Homo sapiens: one gene and its partners. The protein of the gene in region 6 purifies or fractionates together with the protein of the main gene of each other region. This does not show direct contact. Each region holds a gene or a part of one and is shown on either strand. Other genes may lie near its edges.

What was found.
Region 1: the proteins of CARNMT1 (region 6) and ZC3H18 purify together in Homo sapiens (affinity purification with mass spectrometry; 3 studies listed by BioGRID and IntAct, with this or other methods). This does not show direct contact.
Region 2: the proteins of CARNMT1 (region 6) and TPP2 purify together in Homo sapiens (affinity purification with mass spectrometry; 3 studies listed by BioGRID and IntAct, with this or other methods). This does not show direct contact.
Region 3: the proteins of CARNMT1 (region 6) and MAP3K7 purify together in Homo sapiens (affinity purification with mass spectrometry; 3 studies listed by BioGRID and IntAct, with this or other methods). This does not show direct contact.
Region 4: the proteins of CARNMT1 (region 6) and CNTLN purify together in Homo sapiens (affinity purification with mass spectrometry; 2 studies listed by BioGRID and IntAct, with this or other methods). This does not show direct contact.
Region 5: the proteins of CARNMT1 (region 6) and LUZP1 purify together in Homo sapiens (affinity purification with mass spectrometry; 3 studies listed by BioGRID and IntAct, with this or other methods). This does not show direct contact.
Region 7: the proteins of CARNMT1 (region 6) and CUL4A purify together in Homo sapiens (affinity purification with mass spectrometry, with the first as the bait; one large-scale study listed by BioGRID). This does not show direct contact.

What each region holds. Positions count from the first base shown.
Region 1 is NC_000016.10:88,576,903-88,580,402, reverse strand, and holds part of ZC3H18 (zinc finger CCCH domain-containing protein 18), read right to left. Parts: intron 3,294-3,500; 5' UTR 3,280-3,293; coding exon 2,677-3,279; intron 1-2,676.
Region 2 is NC_000013.11:102,645,486-102,648,985, forward strand, and holds part of TPP2 (tripeptidyl-peptidase 2), read left to right. Parts: intron 1-808; coding exon 809-905; intron 906-1,721; coding exon 1,722-1,859; intron 1,860-3,421; coding exon 3,422-3,500. UniProt on the Homo sapiens protein: Cytosolic tripeptidyl-peptidase that releases N-terminal tripeptides from polypeptides and is a component of the proteolytic cascade acting downstream of the 26S proteasome in the ubiquitin-proteasome pathway.
Region 3 is NC_000006.12:90,549,073-90,552,572, forward strand, and holds part of MAP3K7 (mitogen-activated protein kinase kinase kinase 7), read right to left. Parts: intron 3,108-3,500; coding exon 2,977-3,107; intron 1,478-2,976; coding exon 1,396-1,477; intron 1-1,395. UniProt on the Homo sapiens protein: Serine/threonine kinase which acts as an essential component of the MAP kinase signal transduction pathway. Plays an important role in the cascades of cellular responses evoked by changes in the environment.
Region 4 is NC_000009.12:17,133,583-17,137,839, reverse strand, and holds the start of CNTLN (centlein), read right to left. Parts: upstream 2,801-4,257; 5' UTR 2,775-2,800; coding exon 2,415-2,774; intron 1-2,414. UniProt on the Homo sapiens protein: Required for centrosome cohesion and recruitment of CEP68 to centrosomes.
Region 5 is NC_000001.11:23,092,357-23,095,856, forward strand, and holds part of LUZP1 (leucine zipper protein 1), read right to left. Parts: intron 2,025-3,500; 5' UTR 1,906-2,024; coding exon 1-1,905.
Region 6 is NC_000009.12:75,014,794-75,018,293, forward strand, and holds part of CARNMT1 (carnosine N-methyltransferase), read right to left. Parts: intron 2,656-3,500; coding exon 2,460-2,655; intron 1,639-2,459; coding exon 1,475-1,638; intron 1-1,474.
Region 7 is NC_000013.11:113,212,613-113,216,112, reverse strand, and holds part of CUL4A (cullin-4A), read right to left. Parts: intron 1-3,500. UniProt on the Homo sapiens protein: Core component of multiple cullin-RING-based E3 ubiquitin-protein ligase complexes which mediate the ubiquitination of target proteins. As a scaffold protein may contribute to catalysis through positioning of the substrate and the ubiquitin-conjugating enzyme.

The DNA of each region.
Region 1 (3,500 bases), on a different chromosome or scaffold from region 6:
TCCACTCACTGCCACTTCACATTACAAAGGTTCTCACCTTCAATGTGCCCCGGGCAAGTAGGATTCCTCTACTGACTGGCTGCCCACTATGTGCCAGGCCCCAGGGAGATAGGGGAACCAGCCAGGTAGCCCCCAGTCTTAGGAAACATGTTCTTGGGAATAGGGGAAGCAGCAGGCAGAGACATATACATATACACACACACACACACACACACACACACACACACACACACACACACACACACAGATGAACCTGTGTCACGACAGAGAGGCAGAGGCAACAGAGAAACAGCCTACGCAAATGCTGAGGTTGACACATAAAGGATGGAGGAGCCTGAAACGCTGCTGGGCGTGGGAACAAGAGGAGACCACGGGGGCTCCTGGGGCAAGCAACCCAGGGGCCTGAAGTCAAATGTGCTCTTGTAGAGGCTGAACCCACCATTCACAGCACTGCCCACCTTGGTTAAAGGCCTGCTGCCCCCACAGCAGGAGCGGGCTCTGCTCCGCCCTGCCCAGTCACACTCAGCATGTGGCACAGCAAGGTCCACCTGTGCTGGTGTCCAGGAGCACAGACCTATGGGGGATGTGGGGCGCTGGAGGCAGTCTGTGCGGTGGAAGAAACCTGCCTCCCCGTTTGCCAAGGGAGCTGTGCTGGGGTTTCCACAGCAGCACTCCGTTTTCAACTGTGGGTCCCCTCACAAGACGGTGCCAGGCAGGGCAGGCAAGGTCTAGGTAGGCAAAAATGGCAAATGGGGTTTTTCTTCCATGTGCTGTGTCTAGGGGAAACCAGCATGTCCAGGCCCTTGGCAGCCAGGGCCATTCTCCAGAGCAGCTGGACCCATCTACCGCACCGCCCGCGCCCATGGTGCGGCACTGAGAACTCACAGTATGCTCCACAGACATGGCCTTTCAGGACCACTATGGGGACCCTTGATCCGTCTGATGAATCTCCCCCAAGACTTGAGGGTCTGCAGCCAGTCCTCTTAAGAGGAACTAGAGCACGCCAGAGCCCTGGGTGCAGGACCTGCTGCACTCCCAGTGGTGGTGCAGACAGGGCTGTTACCCCCAGGACACAAAAACTCAGTCTCATGGGCATCCTCAACCCAACCAGCTCCCCCAGCTGATGAACCTGAATCTCACCGTCTCTCCTTTCCCTCTGCCAGCCCTGGGGTAGGTCTCCTCTTGCAAAAAGCACTAGCTGAGGAGACCACTTCCTACACTTCGCTGCGGAAAGATGAAACATCTAAAATTCTCAGCTTGCAGGTGCACACACGTCCCGTAAAGTCACATGAGCAATACTTCAAACCCTATAAATTACTGAGCAGTGCCACAGAGAGCAGCGATGGCCGGAAAGTCATATCCAAACGTGCATTGAGAGCACGCACGCCAGCATGCTACTGGAGAAGCATGGCACCCGCCGGGCGTGGTGCCTCACGCCTGTGATCCCAGCACTGTGGGAGGCTGAGACGGCCGGATCACCTGAGGTCAGGAGTTTGAAACAAGCCTGGCCAACAGGGCGACACCTCATCTCTACGAAAAATACAAAAATTAGCCAGTGGTGGCGGGCGCCTGTAATCCCAGCTACTCAGGAGGCTGAGGCAGGATAATTGCCTGAACCTGGGGGTAGAGGCTGTAGTGAGCTGAGATGGCGCCACTGCACTCCAGCCTGGGTTACAGGGTAGACTCTCTCTCTCAAAAAAAAGGAGCATGGCATTCAAGGCAAACCGGCGGTTACACATCTAACTGGCAGCCTTTACCTGCCTCAACCCAGAGCATGACATCAGAGAGATACTCTCGGCAGACACTCTTCACCGCAATGACTCCCCATAAGCACAATCCCCTTCCCCAGGATCTTTCAAAAAAAAAACAACAAAAACCCAGTTCAGTTCAACTGCTCTGTCCCTTGCTCACCTCCTTTGAGTTCAATAGCTCCGGCAAGTATCACTCAGGAGGACTTTGGGGTGTTTCTCCCGAAACACTCATAGTTTTTCCAACGGCATCAACTGCTAAGAAAACCCCACCTACCCATACCTAGGATCATAGATAGTACTACCTTCCCCTCAACCTGAAGGCCACATTAATTTAATGTACAAAAAAGTGTGCTGGCTTTGTCAGAAGTTGAGGTGCCCACCACAGTCTTTTCAGGGATATGTCCAAAGAGGCCTGGCCCAGCTGGTGCCCTCTCCAGAGGTCAGGCTCTAGGACCAGCATAAAAATGCCTAAAACATCCAAAACCAGATGGAAAATTTCCTCATTCTTTTCAGTCCAAAAACCTGACAAGAGTGGAAACCCACGTGGTTTCTGGTTGAGTGTTAACTTGAGTATCACTTGAAGACGGCAAAGACAAGGACAGACATTAACCCTTCATTCCTAGAACCTAAAAACACTGGGCGCTGGACCTTTCACTACAACCCAAACAATCCCACCAGCTGGCCGGCCGAGGGCCACGGAAACCCTGCTGGCAGCTTCTGGAGCTGCCTCTGCTCATTCTCGATTTCTGGCTCTTTCTCTCCAATCACTATGGGACTGAACCCAAAACAAGCCTCTCATTCTCCTGCACCATCCCTAGTAACAAATCACTAAGTCAGTCCCACACAGAGTCCCTCCTTTCCAGCACCAGTCTATGTCAGGCTGCTGGGCAGGATGCCCCGCGACGCTCTGCTCCATCATACTCACGTCTATTTCCCCATCATCGATTTCTCCATCATCGTCCTCTTTCTTTTTCTCCTTGGCAGCCTCCAGGGATTCCTTTTCTCCCACACTCTGAACACCAGCCTTCCCCTCCTCCCTGGGAGTGCCTTCGCCTTTCTCCTCATCATCCTCAGCCCCCGCTTTCTCAGCCTCGTCCTCCTGGACGGCGGGAGCTGGCTCCTCAGGAACCTCCTCATCGTAGTCTAGCTCATGCTCATCCAGCTCCCTGGTGACTGAGGAGGCCTCATCCCTAAGGTCGCTTGTCCGGTCTTCCTCCCCTTCGTCCCCCTCCTCCTCGCAGGGGGAGCTGGTCGGGCCCCGGCTCAGCTCATTCACCTCTGAGTCCTGGTCTTGGGATTTAGGCTCACTTGCCCGGTCCTCCTCGTCGGAGTGATTATCTTCCTCCTCCTGGCTCGGCCCCCTGGCTGCACTTTCCTCATCCTCCAGATCAGAAGCCCTCACCCCCGCCCCGTCCAAATCCTGATCGGACCCGCTGTCCCTCAGAATGTCATCGTCCGAGAGTCCCTGTGGCTGCTCTTCATCCTCTGGAGAGTGAGGATCCCGTTCAGGGCTCTCGGCCACATCCATCGGTACCCACGGTTCTGCAAAAGAGAGAATACAGATTGACAGCCTTTAGCAAAATGGAAAACAAACCTTGTCCCTACTTTCCTGGCCTGAAGCAGCAGGACTTCCATCCTGCTTGGTCCCACACGGCCCTGCCCCAAATCCCACACTCCACTCTGCAGAGAAAGACAGGCCATAACTCCACTCCACAAGGCTAGACTGCTCAGCTAAGCTGGGTGTTAAGT
Region 2 (3,500 bases), on a different chromosome or scaffold from region 6:
GTTTCTTTTGTTTAATCTGACCTTAACTCATCGGCATGAAGCCTAGTCTTAAGTGTATTAAAATAACCAATTAGGGACAATAGTCAGTGACACGGTGATGTCTAAAGATATACTGCTTCCTAGAATTATCAATAAAAATTAAAACATCCAGCTTTTGAAGATATATCCAACTTATATCATCCTGATGTTTTCTTCCTAAATCTAAAAAATTGGAGCTAAATTTAGAGTAGATTATGTTTCACTGACATTTTAAACTATATTTAAAACTTACTCTTCAGTGTCAGTTTTCTCCTTTATAAAATCTGTACATTAGCAACTTCCTTCAGAGGACTACTAAAAATATGAAATAACATTCCCTCGGCCAGGAGGAGGGCTGAGTGTGGCCCCTGCCATCTGGTGAGCAGCAGGGGTCTGGGGAGGTCTGTGCTGCACACAACACAGTACTGTCAACAGTTTGCACAAGGGGTACAAATCAGAACCTGTCTTGCAACACTTTTAGTTGTCACCCTAGTGTTAGGATTTGGTTGTATTGAGAGCTGTTTGTTCACATTTGAAAATGTTTTTGCCATGAAAAGATTGCCTTTGTCATATTTATTGCAAAATCTAAACTGTATGTATTGATATGATTCAATCAAATAATTATGTAAGTTAGTGATTAAAATATTGTAGAGTATACTGAAAAGGATAGCTCTCAGGAAGGTTCATCTGCACTTTTTGCAATATGTTACAGATTTTGTTGCATATGGTTTTATTTGTCTCATTCAATGAACTCTTGAATCAAACCAGTTATGTAGTTTCCTCATTACAGCCCAGTGAGTGCAAAAACAAAACCTTTAGGATCAAGAGATGTTTTGCCAAATAACCGTCAACTTTATGAGATGGTCCTGACATATAACTTTCATCAAGTAAGTGTTTGCCTAGTAAAGTGTACCCTTAGGATGAACTTTTGTGTTTTATTTATGATTCATAGAATCAAAAATGGAAGGACAGTGTATATGGTATATATAAAAAACAGAATCAAGTGATTAACAGTTAATTTGGAATTACTCTTTAGGAAATTATAATTTGTAATTAAATACCATTCAGTTGTAAAGTCACAAAATGTAATTGAGTGGTGACCTAGCCTTAAGCCTTAGTTTATAAAATCACTGATCACTGTCCATTGGTGCCATCTGACCCAGGGGTGATTAGATGGCTCAGAAATACCATCTGCCTTCTGGTGATGGTGCTGGGCCTGATTGCTTTCTGCGAAGAAGGCACTGGAACAGGGAAAGGTCAGAGTAGCTCCCAGGTGGGATGGGTGGCAAAAGTAATGGAGGCCAGTGTAAATGCTGGACCAAAGAATTGTTGTAAGATCAATGAGATTTCAATAAAACTGTTACTGAAACACACATCAGTTTGGTTATAATGTTAGGGAAATGGATTGGTTTCAGTGAATTTTCACATTTCAGTTTTATAAAGTAATTAGAGGTCCTGAAGTATGTATATGTTGCTTTATTAATGAATACACATAGCCAGGTGTGTATTTTTAAAAGTTTGTAAGAGAGCAGTGACTTTTATAAGTGCTAAAATACTGTGTGTTCTATATTTTCAAAATTTTTTACCACAAGTATTTTTAATGTTTTTTAAATGAAAAAGTCTCATGTCAATAACAATATTAAAAATTTGTATCAGAAATTATATGCAAATCATGCCAAGTAATCTTTTTTGTTTTTTAATAGCCCAAGAGTGGGGAAGTAACTCCAAGCTGCCCACTACTTTGTGAACTATTATATGAATCTGAATTTGACAGCCAACTGTGGATTATTTTTGACCAGAACAAAAGACAGATGGGTTCAGGCGATGCCTATCCACATCAGGTATAAAATTGATGGTGATTTTTAGAATTAACGGAAGCTGTTTCCTGAACTAACAAAATCCTGGTTTCTTGTTATGGTAATGTTCATACTTTAAAAAAAACAAAAATTATAGCTTTGTGTTTAGTACTTTTGCAAACTGTGAGAGCCTGTTTGTTGTAGTCGGTGAAGAACAGATGGTGTCAACTATTTCACCATGTAGTTGTGCTGAATTAGAGGAGGACAAGGGTGAACCTTGCCCACACTGGCCAGCATAACTTTTGGTGTGTGGTGTTTCTCCTTCCTATACACTGATTCTACCTATCTGAAGGTAGAATCATCAAAGCATGCATCAAAGAGATGCGAGCCTCTTGAAATGATCCTAAGTCTGAGGGGGCTAAAGAGAGCACTGCAGCAGTGGCCGCATGTCTTCAGTTCATTTGTACTTTTAAATTTACTACCTCGTTGGACAACTCTGTAATGAGCACTTACTACATACCAGGCACTATGCTTTGTGCTGTTTTATTGAAGGGAAAAATCACATAATTTATAGACATTTTATCCCTTAGATATTACTGCAAAGAAATGAGATATTTCCTGTAATATGTATAATTTTATGTTGACAAATGAAAATAATTTATGGAGATTTTTTTCAATTAGTTGTTAAAGGAATGGTATCGATTTTCCTCAAAGCAAGTAGCAGTCACATCTCATTACAGACTGGCCTACTGCAGTGCTATTATTTTGGTTACTTTTTAAATCTCAGAAAAAGTGGCTGACACAGGATACAGCATCTCTTCCTCTTGAACCTGTTAAGTGGATAATAGATTTGTATCCCTTGATCTCTATTGGTTTCCTGTTTTTTTCCTGTCTGTAATAAAGGAGTGACATTTTGGTTGTAATTTGAAGATCAGCTGGGCATGGTGGCACATGCCTGTGATCCCGTCTACTCAGGAAGCTGAGGTGGGAGGATCGCTTGAGCCCTGGAGCTCTAGGCTATGGTGCACTATGATTGCACCAGTTAACAGCCACTGCACTTCAGCCTGGGCAACATAGTGAGTCCCCCTCTCTAAAAGGAAATAAGGATTACCAGTAGTCATAAGTTACACGTGTGTGTGTGTGTGTGTGTGTGTGTGTGTGTGTGTGTATTTGTCCTAGATATTCTATGGTGCCTCAATTTTGCTCATTTTTTTGGTAGTGTTTCTTATATGTCTCTGAGGGACCCATGAACTAGAAAATCACTGCTTTTGTCATTCTCAAGCAGACACTGAGTTTTGCTAAAAGTGTGGGAGTATTCTGTCGTTCTGGAAAGAATGAGGGCTTTGAAGTCAGACCTGACTTCAGCTCTCTTATACTTTACTCTGTGTGATGTTAGGCAAGTCACTTGATGTCCCTGATCCTGTCTGCTCACCAGCGTACTAGGGACTTTATGTGTTATATGAACGTCTGGATAGTTAGTTCCTTGCACTGTACCTCACATATTATGAACAAGTCTGTGAATGGTAACTTTCACTTTATCCTCTTTCAGTGATTTCCGTTGACTTGGTTAAACTTAACTTTTCCCAAATGTTGTTTTTCTTTTTCAGTATTCTTTGAAACTGGAGAAAGGAGATTATACAATTCGACTACAGATTCGCCATGAGCAAATCAGTGATTTGGAACGCC
Region 3 (3,500 bases), on a different chromosome or scaffold from region 6:
GATGATGCAAGAGACAGGGGAGAATTGCTCAGAGGAGCAGATGGGATATAATGCACAGGCAGAAAGGTACACCTTTGGCCAGAAGTATGGATAGTTTAGCCAGAGTAACAGAAGAAAGCAGAGTAGATGGGCACAGATGTTGTGGAAGCTGTCTTCCGATTACTCCAATTTTCTCAGAGAAAGAGCAAACAAGATCAGCTGAGAGTGAGGAGTGGCGAGGAGGTGTTTGAAGTCTGAGGAGAGGCTACAGTATAAAATTAAGACATATAGGAGGAAAGAGATGAACTACAATACAGTACAACTGTCCAATAGCACTAAACATGCACGTGAGGATAGTAAACCTGTGCTATCTCCAGCCACACTCAGCTGCATTGGTACAGGCAAGGAGTAAGCCGAGTGTCAGCTTTCATTAGGCTTGTGGTTTAGCCAAGCAAGCTTGAGAGAGAGGCTAGAAAGATGAAAATTATTCCCAAAAGAATTATAATAGTTGATTGGAATTAAGTGGAGGGAGAAAGAAAAAAGGACCTAAGAGGACTGAGGACCAGTGAAAAGGTGGGAGGCTCAAAAAATTCAAGGTCACAGTAAGGAAATGAAGAGAGAGTTTAGAGGACGTGGGAGACACAAATGATAGAATTTTAGAGAAGTACATTTTAGAATTCAGAGCAACTCAAAATATTTTCAGTAAAACTGGAATTTGAGAATAACTAGCCAAGCAGTAACCATCTTAAAATAAATAAAACTATTCTTGAGGTGGGAGAAATAGATCAGTAAAAGTATTTTTCAATAAATGCAGGGTAAATACATGTGCATATAGACACACACATATCTTTAAGTTTCAATTAATAATGAAATGCTTATAATGCCACTATATTTTGAGAAGTACAATATTTCTAAGTTACAGTATTATTTCTACTATCTTTTTGATGACCACAAATTACATGTCCCACTACTACTTCACATTTCGGAAAACTAAGGAACTTTTAACATAGCTTCTTAAATCAGAGCCTCTGTAGAAGAGAACAAAAACTAGGGTGTTCGTGATGAAGAAATGTTTAAATACATTTACAATAATTTCTAATACTACTTGATCTAGTAGTATGCATGTAAAAGTGATTTTTCAAGTTAAGAATGACATTCACTGTAATACAATATGCCATCTTTTTATTCATAATTATGTAGGAATTCTAAGACTTGGAAGCAGGTCTTCAATAACTCTTTAATCAGGGTACCTACATGAAGAATGACGCACCTGTAAACTCAAATTGCAGTCAATCATATGAAATGAAGGAATTAAAATGCAAATGGGGACATTATTCATTACTTCTTGATTATAATTTCATGGGAATAGAGATGAAAGAAAAATCAAGTCAATACTCTTCCAATCTATCCATTTACCTGTACTGGTGGCAGAGTTGCTCTGTCCTTCATCTGAATACTGACAAGGATACTGTAATGGCTCATCTGCTCCTGGAAAGTACTATATATAAAAAAGTAAACCACAGCTTAAAATTTCCTTAATACAAATTAAATCCTGATTAATGTTTTATTTTCCCTAAGTTATATACTAAATTTGTAGGTGCCTAAGTTTTTTATTTTACAAAGATTACAATAATGTACTCTTGGATTTCAACTTTGATCAATGCCATGCACCTACCTAAGAATCTAGCTTACATTGGAGTCTAGATAGTCTTGAAGAAAACAGCAAATATTTCTCTAGAGAAACATATGAAATAAAATAGTATCATTTCTCATAATTATGTAAAACATACTCATGTTCTTACAGTAGTGATGTAAACTTCCAGTGACTGTTAGTCTGAAGACTGAGACTAGTATACCATAGAATAATTGTTAGAACATTTTAAATATTAAGAGGATAGATTATGAATGTCTTTCTACAAACTGGAGGCATAATACTCAAAGTATCTGCTGGACAAAAATGTTAGAATTTAGAGAAAAAAAGGAAACGTATTCTCCTCAAATTAGACAAGGAACAGAGAAGCAAAATTACAACTGCAATAACTTATATATCCTAAAGTTTTAAGTAATCTGACTACAGAGACTAAGTTGTTTTCTTATGCACACACCTTTAAGGCCTAGGCTTCTATATATGACTGGTATCCAAATACGATGGTAAACTTTTAGTAGATTAGTTCAAGCTGCTTTGCGTAAGAAATTTTCAATAGATTGAATAAACAACGTTTTACCATTTAGGAAATTACTTAGTCTATATTTAAGGAGATTGTAAGATTCTTCTACTGAACAAACTGTTTCAAAATTCAGGCACTTTCATAGATATTTGAACTTTTTAAAGCCAAGATACCACTTCACAGTTTTTGTTAATGTACCAAAAACCAGAGGCGTAAAATATTCCAAATAATTCTAAAGGCGCTTGATTCACAGACTAGGAAAATTTGATAATCATTTAAAAGGGTTCTTCTAAATAGAAGAAAGTTTAACTTTTTACTGGGATATAAAAACCTGAAAATAGGCCAAATAGTAAAAGTCACTCAAATAAATGTGTCTGAGAATGCAACCTATTGCCTTGCATAAATGACTAAATGCTTGATGAAAATTGGTATCAGAAAAATGTAAAATTTAGTTTATCATGTATTGAAGTCATAATATTAATATATCCAAGTCCTGTGATGGCTTTAGAGACTATCTATTTCAGTTTCTCCCACATTACAAATGAGGCAACAGGCCCAGAGACAAACATACTTGTCCACTAATGTAAGCAAAAAGAAAAAAGCAAGTCTAGAAACCTAGTCTAGCCATCTTTCCAGTGATAAAGAACTAGATTTTCCCTCTCGAAATGTTTCCTCTTCTGACTATGAGTAATAAATGCCCATTCTCACTTAGAAAACATAGCAATATATAAAGCAGAATATAGTAATAACATCCCTTTTAAAATTCCATTAAAACTCAGCACATATTAAATTCCCCTAAATCCAAAGCCCCTCAAAAGAAGGATTATACCCGCATCAAGTGAGTCATTATTTTCACAATTTCCTCCATTGAAGGGCGCTGGGAAGGATCTTTAGACCAACAACGAGTCATCAGGCTCTCAATGGGCTTAGGTAAATTTTTTATCAGTGGTGGTCGAGTACCTACAATTGAAAATGAGAGGAAGGGGGGAAGAATGTATTTACCCAAAGAATGATGCAAACTCTTTGTACGTATTTCCAAAGTGGTATTTATTTTATAGATCTTGTAGTTTAAGATCTGTAATTTGGAGTAATAAAAGTGCTTTGTAATTTTATCAATTAACAAGTTAGTTCTTTTACTCTTTACTTCACGGACGTTCAATTATTTACTGACAACTGATAGAAAGCAAGCAAGCAAGCTGTCCTGGTCAATGCTGAACAGTCTCCACAATGATACTAATGGTAGTAATATTAAAGGCAGTATAGGAAACTGGTAAAAACAGCTAAGATTACTCAGATGATGGTACTGTTTGATAAATCTATGAATGACCTAAATAATTAGGCAGACATTTGTTT
Region 4 (4,257 bases), about 58 Mb from region 6:
TGCTTTCTATTACATGCTTATTCTGAGGCATTCCAATGATGTAGAATGGTATGGGGAATTACTCAAACTTCACCAAGCACACATCACTGAATTCCCATAAGTTGAATGTGAAAGCAAAACAAATTAAATGAAGCTACTACTTATGACCATGGACTAATTAGCAGTGTTCTTTTTCCTAAACTGTATGTTTCAAGCCTTGTTGGGTTCTGAAATTAATTTAGATCTGGACAGCATTTTTTAAAGGAATAGAACTGAAAAAATATCAGCCCACACAGTATTAGGGCATGTATTCTTTCTGAAAATATATGTTTGTATATGTGTGTACTTACTAGATTGAGATACAAAATTTTACTTCGAGTTGTAATTTTCAGCAGTTTTAATGCTATGTATTCTTGGGTACTGTGATCTCTAGCTGAATAAATAAGCGGGAGAGTATACTTTAAAAGATATAAAAGTGAATATTTAATCACCTAAATGCTTTTTACAAAACAATTGGGAGTTCAATTACTATTTTTCCCCAAGATTCCCGAAGAGCAGGAGTCTGATTTGACTAAGATTTTTATGGTGCGGGATACTGCCTACAATTATATAAGAGTATTAATATTACAAAATCTAAGAGATCATCATTCTAGACTATTATGACCATCTCTGTATTCTTACATTTGCCAAGAGTATGTCAATCATTTTCCTAGTCTATATATGTCCGAGGTCACAAAAGCCAACACCATGTTTGGAGCCACATTTTTAAAGAATGTAAGTATTTGTGGGAAGAGGTTCATCAGGCTGTTTCCAATAGACTGACTTCCTTAACCAAGTCGGTCATAAAAAAGTATCTTAGCTCTTTAGCCAGCTAAAGGCCTAACTATGTGGGGAGGCAGAAGTGGGAGGAAAGAGTGCGGAAAATATGCCAAAGAGTGTCTTAGATTAGGACTCAGAGTATCAAAGGCCTTTATCATGGGTTCACATCTTAAAACTCCCCAAAGGGTGAGGTCTGCAGATGACAAATGCTTCAATTCATTGTTGTCATTTATTTATCCCTTTGCTCCTTATCCAACGAAGAACAGAAAAATGGTAAAACGAAAAGAGGGCACCATATTAAATGTCCCAACCTTGTTTAACCAAAGGCACATTCAATTTGAAGATGGTCCCATTTTTACACCCTTCACTCAGTCAGCAAGGACCTATAAAATGGGCAAAAGAATCCAACAGAACAAACTATGAGAGAATGAATTTCTGTAATCCCAGCACTTTGGAAGGCCAAGGCTGGCGGACCACGAGGTCAGGAGATCGAGACTGTCCTGGCTAACACGGTGAAACCCCATCTCTACTAAAAATACAAAAAATTAGCCAGGCGTGGTGGCGGACACCTGTAGTCCCAGCTATTCGGGAGGCTGAGGCTGGAGAATGGCGTGAACCCGGGAGGCGGAGCTTGCAGTGAGCTGAGACTGCACCACTGCACTCCAGCCTGGGCGACAGAGAATGAATTTCATGAACTGTTTTATTAAACTGATGATACTGTTCACAAAGTTACTTTGATGTTCAGCAGCTCCTAATTGGTTTCTAAGTTGAAGACAGAGTGACTTAAAGATCTACTGTTCAGTGAGTTTCCCACATCCAATCTCCCAACCCTATCTAAAGGTTCTGGTAAAATCAAAAGAGATGATGGTAAGGATGCAAAACTAAAGGAAAATTCAATCTCTTTGAACATGAGTATAGTCAAGTCCATCCTTACAAAAACTCTACAAACAGGAAAGTAATTTTAATGCAATTGATTTAGCAAATGTTTTTCACTGGCAAGATCACATGAAAATGTGATTTCTCACTCAAGGACCGCGGAATTACCATAGCTGGTTAATAAACAAGTACCAAGCATCATCTATTGTTAAGTTCCCGGCTCTGAGACTTTCTAAACGTTACTCGTCTGTGTTTACAACTTAAGTTTGACTGGGTAAAAACAAAGCCAAGTGTGGGTTTGAAATTTTAAAAACAGGCTCCTTCATCGATGGATTTTACTCTAACCGAAGTGTTTACACTTTCCTGTTCATTTCAACTAGTGGACTGCATGTCACTCCTGGGCCCCCGGCAGGTATCAGCTACCGTCACCACCAAGAACTTGGGCTTGGGGGGGAAGCGGAGAGGATGCGACTGCGAGTATCCAAGTGACCAAAACCAAACCCGGGCGCGGAGGCGAAGCCTGTCTGGCCGCAGTTCGGAAAGGGGCAGGGGCCCGGGTTTGGGGAGCCGGGCGCAGCCGCGTCCCTCCAGCCCCCGGCCGCGAGCGAAGCAGGGTGTGCATCTGCCAGGGAGCGTCGCTGGGCGGGGTAGGTCCCAAGGCAGAGGGAGAAAGGCGCGCCTCCCCACGGGTCCCGGCCCCGCTGTGGTGGGGAAAGGGGGACTGCGAGACTCCTCGATACCTGACACAGGGCCAACTCCTCCTTTAGGCTGCTCAGCTCTTCCTCCAGCAGCTGCGTCCGGGTCACCATCGCCTCCTCTACCGAGATGCCCTCTAGCCGTCTGGACCCCATGGGCGCGCTGAGGAGGGGAGCATGAGCCGGAGCTGCCCCCCCAGGCCCTCGCCGGCCCCCTGACCCTTCTTCACCCACCCAGATTTTATCACTTTCGTCCGCGACCACCTCCCGCGCTGCGCCGGCAAAACCCGAGGCCTCGCTGCGCATTGCGTGTACTTCAGCTCCCCGCCCAACACGTGGGGACCTGGGGCCCAGCTGTCGCGCTGGGGGCGAAGGGTGCGGTGAGGGAGGCGAACGCGCCGCCATGGCTGCGGCTGCTAACGGGTCAAGTTCCCTGTTGGAAACTCCACCTCCCTTTCCCCAACCCGGCGAGCCCGGAACGCCGAACCGCGCATGCGCGAGGCTTTTCCCGCCTTGGCCCGCGGTGTCCCGTGTTCTCTGGTCCTGGCCGGCTTCCCGCGGGCAATGCGCCCAGCGCGAGCCTTGGGGTACGCACGCGCCGTGGCCCGAAAGGGTAAGGCCGGTCCGCCGGGCAGGCCATCCCAGCGTCCTGTGCCTGAGTCCTTGGCCAGGATCGCCTGGATTTCCCGCCCACCTAAAGCCCTGCCTGCCACTTACATCCCACCTCTTAAAGCCTTCCTTGACAAGCCCCCAGCCCCAAATGATCCTTAACTGTGAAATCCCTCTCCTTCAAGGCCCCTGCCAACTCGTGTGACACGTTTCATTGACCGCCCTGGAGTGTCAGTTACACGGCTAATCTCCCCAGCCCTGTTGTAAGCTCCTTGAGGATCAAGGAATACGTTTTACACTTAAGTGTTTTCTTCACACCCCTTGGCAAAACTGCTTTAGTACAGCTGACATCCAGCTGACTAATGTCAAGGAGATGTGGAAAGCCTTGTGCTGATCTGGGACTATCAAGCAGGTTTCCAACTTGAATGATGATCCTTTGTACACCCTTTGTCTTTTGTTTTGCAGGAGTCATGATTTCCTTTGAGTTTTTATGTCAGCTTCTTTATGCGTTGGCTGGATATCAGAGGAAGTGTAGCCCACATTGCTGAACAGTTTGGGTCCTTGGAGCAGTTTGAAATCAGTAATTTGGAGCGTGGATGAAGAAACAAGACCTACTTTATCTTTTGTTCTCTTTTTTTTCTTTTTCTTCTGGCTTTCTTTATAAACTTCAAATAGGTAGTAATCGTATCTTTCTTTGCCCTTCAAATACTTTGTTACTATTGATAAGATTAATGAGATGCATATTGAGCTGGCACCAGAACATCCCTGAAAGTTAGAACTGCCCTCTTCTTCAGAAAGGGTTCCAGAATACTTGGGGAAAGCTGAGATGGGGGTTGAGAGCAGAAGTAGAGAGATGACCACTTTACTGTTAACTTCATTTAACCAAAATATCACCATCTCTGCATGAGAATCTAGTCAGGATGCCAAAAGACACCCTCCCAATTAGAATCCTGCCAAGGCAACCAAGATAAGTGGACTTCTTTCAAACTGAAGGTGAATTCCTCACAAAAACTTATTAAAGAGTACATTAGAAAAAGTATGTTTATAAGCCTGTCTTAGAACTAGCTAACCTACTGAACATTTACCATATGCTGAGTCCAGTGCTAAGCACTTTTCATATATGAACTCACTTAATACATATGTCACCTTCAATTAGATTATTATATATCTCCATTTTTACTAGTGAGGAAACAGACTTGCAAGGTTACTGTAACTTCTCTGAAGTGCCATGTCTGGTATCAGAAAAGCTAGGCTTTGAATTCACTGAATTCCACTTAAC
Region 5 (3,500 bases), on a different chromosome or scaffold from region 6:
CATCACAACTGCTGCAGGTTGATTAACCCCTTCTTTATGTGAGGTTGAAAATCCCTGAAGGATGTTCTCTTGGCTTCTACAGCTATAAGGATACTTCGATAGAACAGGAGCCTTGGAATTCGGGCAACTGTTATCAGCCTCAAGGCCATTGGCAGCCTTTTTGCCTTTAGAGAGCCCTTCTGAGGAGGATCTTCGAGATGAGGCCAGGGCTCCAATGGCCTTAGAACAGCCAGAGTTTGCAGCCTGAGTTACTTGACTTCCGTTGCCAAGCACGTGTCCCCTCTTGCCAAAGACAGTCTCAGAGGAGGTGTCAGAAGCCTTGTCAGCTCTACCCAATGGGTCACTGGGAACAGATCCATGGGTGGTGTCACTAAACGTTCGTGTTGTCTTCTCCACTTTTCCCTTCAGTCCGCTCTCGGTGCCTGGCTTGGAAGTCCCCTTCCACGCTTTACTGTGCTCCTGAGCAGCCGGGGGGTAGCGACTCAGCACTGAGGGCTGCTCCCTAGACTTCTTCCCTTCGCTCTGGGAGGAGCCGGGTACAAACCGGTCTTCAGTTTTCTTTGTCTCCTGAGTCCCACTGTCTGTACTCACCCCCATGTGAGAAGCTTTTGCTGCCCTCCTGTTGGTGAAACTGGGAGAAGAAACCTGCCTGTTGCTCAGAGAATAGTTTTCATTGTTGAGAGCAAACTCCCTGTTCCGGAGTCGTTCCCGCTTATGCTGAGGAGACAGTTCCCGCGCTGTGTGCTTGGACACAGAAGCTTCACTTCCGTGGCCTCTAAACTTAGTCCTCTCATGTCTGCCTTTGCTGGACAGGAAAGCATCTTCCCCTTCTACCTCTCCATTTTCTAACTCTTTCTGTTTCTTGATTTGTAGCTTTATCTCCTCCAGTTGGCTGGCTAATAATTTGTTTTTATTTTGTTCACTTAGGTAATTATCCTGAAGGTCGTTATTTTTGGACTTCATTTTCTTAAGCTCTTCTTCCAACGATTCAAAGTGTTTGATTTGTGTCTTAAGTTTCTCAATCTCTTGGTTAAGGTCTTTGACTTTGTTGTCTTCCTGATTGCGGTTCTTTTCATTTTCTGATTTGTTTCTTGTTTCATTCTCTACCTGCTTTAGGTAGTCCAGACCACCCTTCCTTCTTGATTCTTTGGACGGCAGTGTGGAAGAGATGCCATCCTCAATCCGTAGGTCATTTCTTTCCAGATTAGAAGCATTCCTTGTATAATCTCGGTTCATTTTTTTGTTCTGCTCTAGTTTTTGAGTGAGTTCTTTTATCAATTTCTCATTTTCTTTCTCCTTTTCATTCAAGTATTTTCTCTCACTTACAAAGCTCAGAGTTAATGATTTCAGCTTTTCTAACTCTGACGCTAAACTCTGCTCAGTTTTATCCAGGCGGTCCTCAGAAGATTCTAGTTCTTTCACTTTGACTCTGAGCATTTCCAGCTCAGAGGAGATTTTCTTGGTCAGATTTCTCTCCTCATTCAGGCTCAGACACAGCTGGGTACAGTCATTCTTACTCCTGCTGAAGGCCTCTTCTAGCTTCTCTAATTCAGCCATTCGTTTCTGAAGCCGCTCAATCTCAGATTTCAGCTCCCGGGTGAGGTTTTCTTCCTCTTCAAGTTTCTCCTTCATCAGACGACACAGATCCTCTGCTCTCTTAATTTCCTCGTCTTTGCCTTCAATTCTCAGCACCCGCTGGCGCAGCACTTCAATCTCCGCCAACATGCTGGAGTTGCTACCTTCTGCCTGAATCACCTTGTCCTGGAGATCCAGGAGTTCATCCTCTGCTTTCTGGAGGTTTTTTGTGGCTTCCTCCAACTCATCAAGGCGGCGGCTTAGACTCTGTAGCTTAAACCGCAAGTGGCGGCTGGAGGCCGTCTCCTTGTAGCTTGTAAATTCGGCCATGTCTACTGCCAGCCAATGTGGGCTCCTAGAGGCATCCAATTCCACTCAAGGGGATGAGAAATGGTTACCTTTCTCTTGGCAACCACAATCTTCTTTGACAGCTGGAGACCATCATCAATCTACAAAAGGAAAGTAGAAAGCATGTCAGTCAGCAAATGTAAAACCTGCACGTTAGCTCCCAGTTATAGAAAAGTGCTCCTATCTGTTCCTGGTGCCTGGATCATAGCAGGGGCTCAAACCTGTTGAATGAATGACTTGAATAAACCTGCAAGAAAACACTGGTTCTTTATGGCCGATATTGAGTTGATACCTCATTTCGCCCTAATAAAGAATGTCACCAGTGGCAGCATGGCAAAAAGACATATAAGAAGCCTCAATTTTCATGGCAGGGTATAATAACATCATTACCATCTGCAACCTGCATAATCTCAGGAGAGTCATTAACAATGGAAACTAAGTCTCAGTTTTACTTAGTGGTAAAATGGGCATAATGATGTCTACCGTATTTCTCCCCAGTGTTGTTCTGAGATAATATGTGGAAGATCTTGGTAACAAAGCAATAAACAATCCTAAGATTTTTTTTTTTAAAGATTATCTCTTATGAGCTATTGTGACTTAAAAGTGATACAAATTAACCCTCTGCCTTGCTATAAATGGTGAGCTTCACAATATACTAAAACAATCTCTCTACACCCATTTTCAACATCTCTTCTCCCAAAAGTATATTTGTAAGTGGAATTCAGGTGTGAGTTGGCCCGACCCAGCCAACAGGCAGCTTCTACAAAACATATCCTTTTGCACTGTAAAAGAAATGCCCCAGATGTTAAGGTTGGTATGAAGACTGGTTTGTTTCTTTGAAAGCCATTTCACTGGGGATATATACCAAACATATAATAATACCCCAAGGAAATAGAGAAAGGGGAAGGTTTAGTTTTTTTATGTAATTTTCTCATTTTTAAAACAGGAGAATGGATTGATAAATGTATTTTAAACAGCTTTCATGAACAATAAGTCCTACGAAATTAAAAGGCAAACAACAGACTTCCATTTCCACCACTACAGCAAACCAGATAACCTGGAAAACCTCTAATACTATAAAACAGCTAAAAATACTGAATAAAATGTAACAATCACTTAAAATGTATAGTTGATCACATAGAAAGTAAGTGACATTCCAGCTAAAACCAGAGGAAAAGAAAACTAAATGAAAAATAATAGTAAGTTTAAACTACCACTGAGCTGTCCTTCTTAGGGTCTTGCCGATCTCCAGAACCAAGGAGTTTGGGTTCTAACAATCATGCAGGTATAAGAGGCAAGAGTTTGGGCTCAATAGAGGTGGTAAGTTGAAAATGAGACTCCAGTCCCCAATCTAAAGCAAGGATTATTGAAGAACTACAGCTCCAGGATAACTAGTGAAAAAAGTCACCTCCCTGATATAGGGAGATAAGAGGACCCGGGCTCTATTAGGGGTTAAAGGAGGATTATCCCTAGAGAATTTATAATCTTAGACCTGCTCTCACTTGAATTCAGAGTTCAAATTTATACCATCTGAGTGGTCTAGAACCTATCTGTCCTGAGAAACTAACATAAAATGG
Region 6 (3,500 bases):
CAGCGCCACTGCACCCCAGCCTGGGCAACAGAGTGAAAAATAAAAATAATAAATAAATAAATAATAATCAATAAAATAAAATGTCCTAACAAAAAATAAAGAGAGAGAAGAGACACATATGTATTGAAATTTCTGAAAGCAAATACTCAAACGTAAAGTTGTCAATCAATACGGAGGCAAAGGAGAGGAGGAAAAGGAGCCTCTCTAAAAGATCTTTAAATAAGACTGAATTCCATCCAATAGCTTTCGTTAAATATATACCCCTAAATCAGGGGTTCCTAACCTGGGACAGAGGTTAGGTGGATTAAATTCTATCCATCAAGAGGTCTGTGGATAGAATTCACTGAGTCTCTGAAGGGAATGGGAAAAAATTACATTTTAATTTCAGAAACTGATTTTTTCCCCTCAATTACGGATGCAGGCAACAAACAATAGTTTTAGCAATACCTATGACTTTATCACGAAGAGAAATCACACATATTTTCACTTCACATTAGCTGAAGTTCTCAAAACAGTGTATATCCCATTCAGCATTTTCATAATACATTTCATAATTATACTTGCAGCTAAATTGTATTTAAAGTGATATATGATTTAAAAAAACATGCATCACAAATTTACTTTTTAAATATTTTGATAACTGTATTTCAAAATCAGTTTTCTTTGTAATCATATGCACTTAAATTTATTCACTTAAAATTGTTATTCTGGGCCAGGTGAGGTAGCTCACACCTGTAATCCCAGCACTTTGGGAGGAAGACACAGGCGGATCACTTGAGGTCAGGAGTTCGAGACCAGCCTGGCCAACATGGTGAGCCCATGTCTCTACCAAAAACACAAAAATTAGCCAGGCGTGGTGGTGTAAGCCTGCAGTCCCAGCTACTTCGGAGTCTGAGGCATGAGAATCACTTGAACCCAGGAGGCAGAGGTCGCAGTGAACCAAGACCACACCACTGCACTCCAGCCTGGTCAAGAGAGTGAGACTGTCTCAAAAAAATAAATAAATAAATAAATAAATAAATAAAATAAAAAAAAAATTATTCTGAAAAGCAGACCATGGGCTTCAGACTGAACAATGGTTCCAAGGCATAAAAAAGTTAAGAATCTCTGCTTGCTCAGAGGTACAGATCCCTCACTTGTTTACAACTATGTCATAATGAGGGGAATTAAAAGTTTAGTTTTTTTGCTTTGCCATAAAGCAAATTATAAAAAGATACACATCATTGATAATTTTCGACCTAACCTTATTATTTAATTTCTAAGTAATTTCCCCTAAGCACCAGCATAAAAATTATTCAAAATAACAACTGTAATCTCACACAGAGCATCCAATAACAAATGTTAACACTTACACATGTAAAACATACAGGCACACAGCAACTATAACAATGAAGCGAGACTGTGAAACATTTTATCAAGAAACTCAAGTGTTCATACACTTTAAAAACTTGGTTAAAAATGAGGTACTATTTACCATCTCTCTTTTGGAAAATTTTTTAAAATTTCTTTAATGATTGGCTGGTAACAGGCATCCCTTTCTGCTTTCCCAGTTTCACTCCAGTCTCTCACAAACTGTTTCAGCGTGGATTTTAACTTATCCATGTCAAATGTAGATGCTGGCATAATCTTTCCATTCCCCTGTTTAAAAAACAGACATCAATTAGCTTCTGAGAGAGTAATCCACTTATATTATGGTTAAATAGACATGCTACTAAGGGGCTATATAGGTGGTTTAGTGGATAAATCACTAGCCTCTCACCTCAACTGGGGTTCAAGTGCAGCTTGAGATCCTAAATGAAAAGAGTTTGGTGGTCTCACTGCTACCCTCAAAAGATTAAGGTCCATTAATCATAAAACCACCATATAATTAAGCAGTCTTTACTCAGGAGAGGACCAAACTGAGCTGCTATGGAGACCGAACATCCTCTCTAAGAGAGGGAAGAAAGTCCCTCCAGGTCATTGATGGGGCAGCATGGAGAGGCTCACACTGGAGTGGCCCAACTGTATCCATCCTGTGGATACAAAAAGAGGACTTCAGTTTCTATGTACTGCCAGTCCCTTGAGATTTATAAGTGAAAACAATTTCTTACAATAAAAGATGAACAGCAATAGATACAAGACACTGAAAAAATATGAGTTAAGCAAGGGAAATTAATTTCTAGCTAGTAAAGTTGCTTTTAAAAATTTAAGTCACTAACCCTGTATTCCAAAACAGAACATTATGTCAAAATGCATCAAAATCTCAACAGTTATATTAGTACTTAAAAAAGGAAAACAAGTGAACAGATCCAGTCTCTGGCTATTAAGCCTAATCAAATGACTGAACATTTAAGTTAAAACTTTCTGAGTAGAGCAAATAGCCTGTGCCAGATTATAAAAATGAAATCCAGAAAATAAAAGACCTCAAAATACAGAGGTTGACCCTAAAATAAACAGAAATAGAACAAACTTTCACATACATCTTCTCCATATTCTTTATTTTCAAACATATGTATGCAATCATTCACAATGGTCAGTAGTATTTCTTGATTATGATCAATGCATTTCCGGATCTTGTCCAAGTGAAGAAGAAACTGAGGAAGTAGTTTCTGTTGGTTAGCTGGAAGTGATCGAAACTGTCTTTCTGTTCGGTTCACCCGCTCATGCATACTGGTGCTAAAACATAAAAGGTGTTTTTTAAATTCACAAAAGAATTCTCACCAGAGGCCAATCTTACTTTAAGGTTGTCTTTCTGTACAATTATTTCCTTATTATGCTGGATACTGTCCTATCATTTACAATCTCTTGGCTTTAAAAAGGCATTAACTTATAAAGTTGTAAATGTTTTTACTTTATTACAAGTCCTTCTCTAAGCAACCAAAATACAAATGGTTTATCACTAGTAAAAGTAAACATATGCACCAATTAGAAGAGGAAAAAGAAGATTAATGTACAATTAATTTATTTTTGTGTTTTAAACTTAAAATTTTCAGCAAAACCAGCTTTAGATTTTTCCATCTTTAAGTAGCAAAATAAATACTGCTATGAAATTATAATACACACAAAATATGTCCTGAAATTAACTAAAAGCTAACCAGGTTGATTTTTTTTAAATATCATAGAAGATCTTATATACTACAAATTACTAAGCAAATAAAAAATTAAAATTCTATAGTGTTTTACTTAACAATACCCACAATTTGCATTCCAAAAACGAACCCAAAGGTCACTTTGGGGACTACTTATTCATAAAACCAGAAAATAGAACATAATTTTTACTTATATTTACTTATTATTATTATTTTTGAGAGGGATTTTCGCTCTTGTCGCCCAGGCTGGAATGCAGTGGCACAGTCTCGGCTCACTGCAACCTCTGTCTCCCAGGTTCAAGCCATCCTCCCACCTCAGCCTCCCAAGTAACTGGGACTACAGTCATGTGCCACCACACTTGGCTAATATTTTTGTATTTTTTTGTAGAGATGGGTTTCATCATGTTGCCCAGGCTGGTCTCAAACTCCGGG
Region 7 (3,500 bases), on a different chromosome or scaffold from region 6:
CGACCTCCACAGCCACATGGGACGTGACCTCCATAGTCACACAAAGACCTCCACAGCCACGTGGACGAGACCTCCATAGTCACACACGACCTCCACAGCCACATGGGACCATGGGACGTGACCACCATAGTCACCCAAAGACCTCCACAGCCACACAGACGAGACCTCCATAGTCACACAGAGACCGCCACAGCCACATGGACGAGACCTCCATAGTCACACACGCGACCTCCACAGCCACACGGACGAGACCTCCATAGTCACACAGCGACCTCCACAGCCACATGGGACGCGACCTCCATAGTCACACAGCGACCTCCACAGCCACACAGACGAGACCTCCATAGTCACACAGCGACCTCTACAGCCACACGGGACGCGACCTCCATAGCCACACAGCGACCTCCACAGCCACATGGGACGCGACCTCCATAGTCACACAGAGACCTTCAGAGCCACATGGATGAAACCTCCATAGTCACACAGAGATCTCCACAGCCACACGGGACGTGACCTCCACAGTCACGCAGAGACCTCCACGGCCACATGGGACGTGACCTCCATAGTCACAAAGAGACCTCCACAGCCACATGGACGAGACCTCCATAGTCACACAACAACCTCCATAGTCACATAGCGACCTCCATAGGCACACAGTAACCTCCATGGTCACACAGCGACCTCCACAGCCACATGGGACGTGACCTCCATAGTCACACAGCGACCTCCACGGCCACATGCGACGTGACCTCCATGGTCACAGAGACCTCCACAGCCACATGGATGAGACCTCCATAGTCACACAGCGACCTCCATAGTCACATAGCGACCTCCATAGTCACACAGCAACCTCCACAGTCACACAGCGACCTCCACAGCCACACGGGATGTGACCTCCATACTCCCACACAGACCTCCATAGCCACACGGACGAGAGAGACCTCCATAGTCACACAGCGACCTCCACAGCCACACGGAACGCGACTTCCATGGTCACACAGTGACCTCCACAGCCACACGGGACGCGACCTCCACAGTCACACAGCAACCTCCACAGTCACATAGACAAGACGTCCACAGCCACAAAGGACGAGACCTCCATAGTCACACAGCAACCTCCACAGCCACACAGACAAGATGTCCACAGCCACATGGGACGTGACCTCCACAGTCACACAGCGACCTCCACAGCCACACGGGACGAGACCTCCATAGTCACATAGCTACCTCCAGAGTCATATAGCGACCTTCACAGCCACACAGGATGAGACCTGTGTGGCTGTGGAGGTCCCATTCCTACGCTGGGCCTGCAGCTTGGGTGTGAGGGAAGGATGCCACCTAATACAAAGGACTAACCTCTCTCTTTCACTGACCATTATCACCTGGTATCAACATGTCATGAAGACAACTACTCCGTGACTCAAGAAAGACAGCCTGGCTTTCCTCAGAACTTGCATGTCAGCCGGGTGCAATGGCTCACGCCTGGAATCCCAGCACTTCGGGAGGCCAAGGCAGGAGGACTGTTTGAGTCCAGGAGTTCCCAAGGAGCCTGGACAACATAGGGAGGCCACACCTCTCTCTCTCTTTTTTTTTAAAGGGCCTGAGAGGTTTGTTTTTGTGCAACAAAAAACAAAAAAACCAGTTCTAAATCAAAACACAGCCTTTCTCTGAAACCTTTCTAGAAATGCAGTCTTCAGTTTTCTGTTGTCTCATTTAGCAACAAGCAGGACTAAAACATAGAGACACAAGACACAGAAGATGCACTTTCTTCAGGAGTTAGTTATTACAGACCGAAATTCAGGTCGTTCAATGGAAAAGATCCATGCCTTCACAACATTCTCCTCTACACACTACAGGAGGAAAATGATAAAAACAAAGTAACAAACAGAAACAACAGGCCAGCTGAGGCCCAAAAAGTGTAAGTGACAGGACTCCTAAGGTGTTTAGACGTAGAGGGAGAGTGAGCAAAACCAAAAACCAAACACGAAACCAAACCTTTCAAACTTGGGTGAGAATTGGTCCTTTCACATAAGATTCTTTGGCAAAGTATACACCACCCCACCTATACAAAAACTGAGACTTTATTTTGAAACACCAAGTCAAATGTATTGCCTGCTTGATCAGACATCAGTAATTTCACATTTGCTTTTCTTAGATTTCTATCCCATTTGCTTCCAATAGATCTGAGGCAGCTCATGCTTCAGACTCTGTGAGAGGCCAGAAGCCCACCTGTGCGTGGAGAGATGATCACAAGTAAGTGAATCAACTGATTCCACATATCCCCTGGTGGGGCAGCACCTCCAGAGATGCCCCTGGAATTTGCGATGTCTCATTCCAAGGAGGAACCAGTGACTGTCATTTTGGGGTAAGCACTCCTAGTTCTCAGGGTTTCAAGACAGACACCTAAGGCACCTACAAACATTGTTCATAATATCTAGTGATTGTTTTATAAGACATATCACTGTGTACAAGGTGTTGCAAAGTAATTCCGCCTTTTTAAGTAAAAATAATGAGGCAGCAGATATCAGACAGCCAAATCTCCAGGAAAAGAGTAGTAAGAAGCTTTAGCTGTAAGGTATCATATTTTATTAAACCAAAGACCTCTGAGAGTTCAGGTGGGACTCGTTTCTAGTCAAGACACAGTACAAGAACTGTATTAACTTTCTGCCTGAAATAACCACAAAATCAGGCAAAATATACGAAGCAACAGTTTTCGAAGCACTGAGTACTGGGCTATGAAAGACAGTGAATCTCAGAAAGATGGGAGACAAACAGGCCCCAACTGCTCAGCTTCCTGTGTGAAGAGCTTCCAGGTTGTGGTGTGGGGGCCCTGAGTAGCTGGGACTACAGGCATGCAACACCCCACTAGGCTAATTTTTAAATTTTTTGTAGAGATGGGGTTTCACCATGTTGCCTAGGCTGGTCTCGAACTCCTGGGCTCAAGCGATCAGGCCACCTCAGCCCCCCAAAGTGCTGGGATTACAGGTGTGAGCCACTGAGCCCAGACTCTCAATACTGTTAAGAATTTAATTCTCCTACATTGATCTGTAGATTCTATATACCGTCAATCAAAATCTTAGCACACTTTCTTATACAAATTGGCCGATTCTAAAATTCACATGGAAACACAAGGGACCAAGAATAGCCAGAAACCTGTGCAAATGTATGAAGCTGGGGGGCCAACACACCCTGATTTCACAACTCACTCCTCCTACTCCTACGTGGTTTTTGACAAAGGAGCAAAGGCAATTCAGTAGGGGAAAAGAGACTGAAAAACTGGACATTTGCAGGGAAAACACTGACTCTAGACTTTTCTTTGTATTTTTTTGAAATGGAGTCTCACTCTGTTGCTCAGGCTGGAGTACAGTGGCACAACCTCGGCTCACTGCAACCTCCGCCTCCCGGGTTCAAGCGATTCTCCGGCCTCAGCCTCCCAAGTAGCTGGGATTACAGGTGCCTGCCACCACGCCCGGCTAATTTTTTGTACTTTTAGTAGAGAT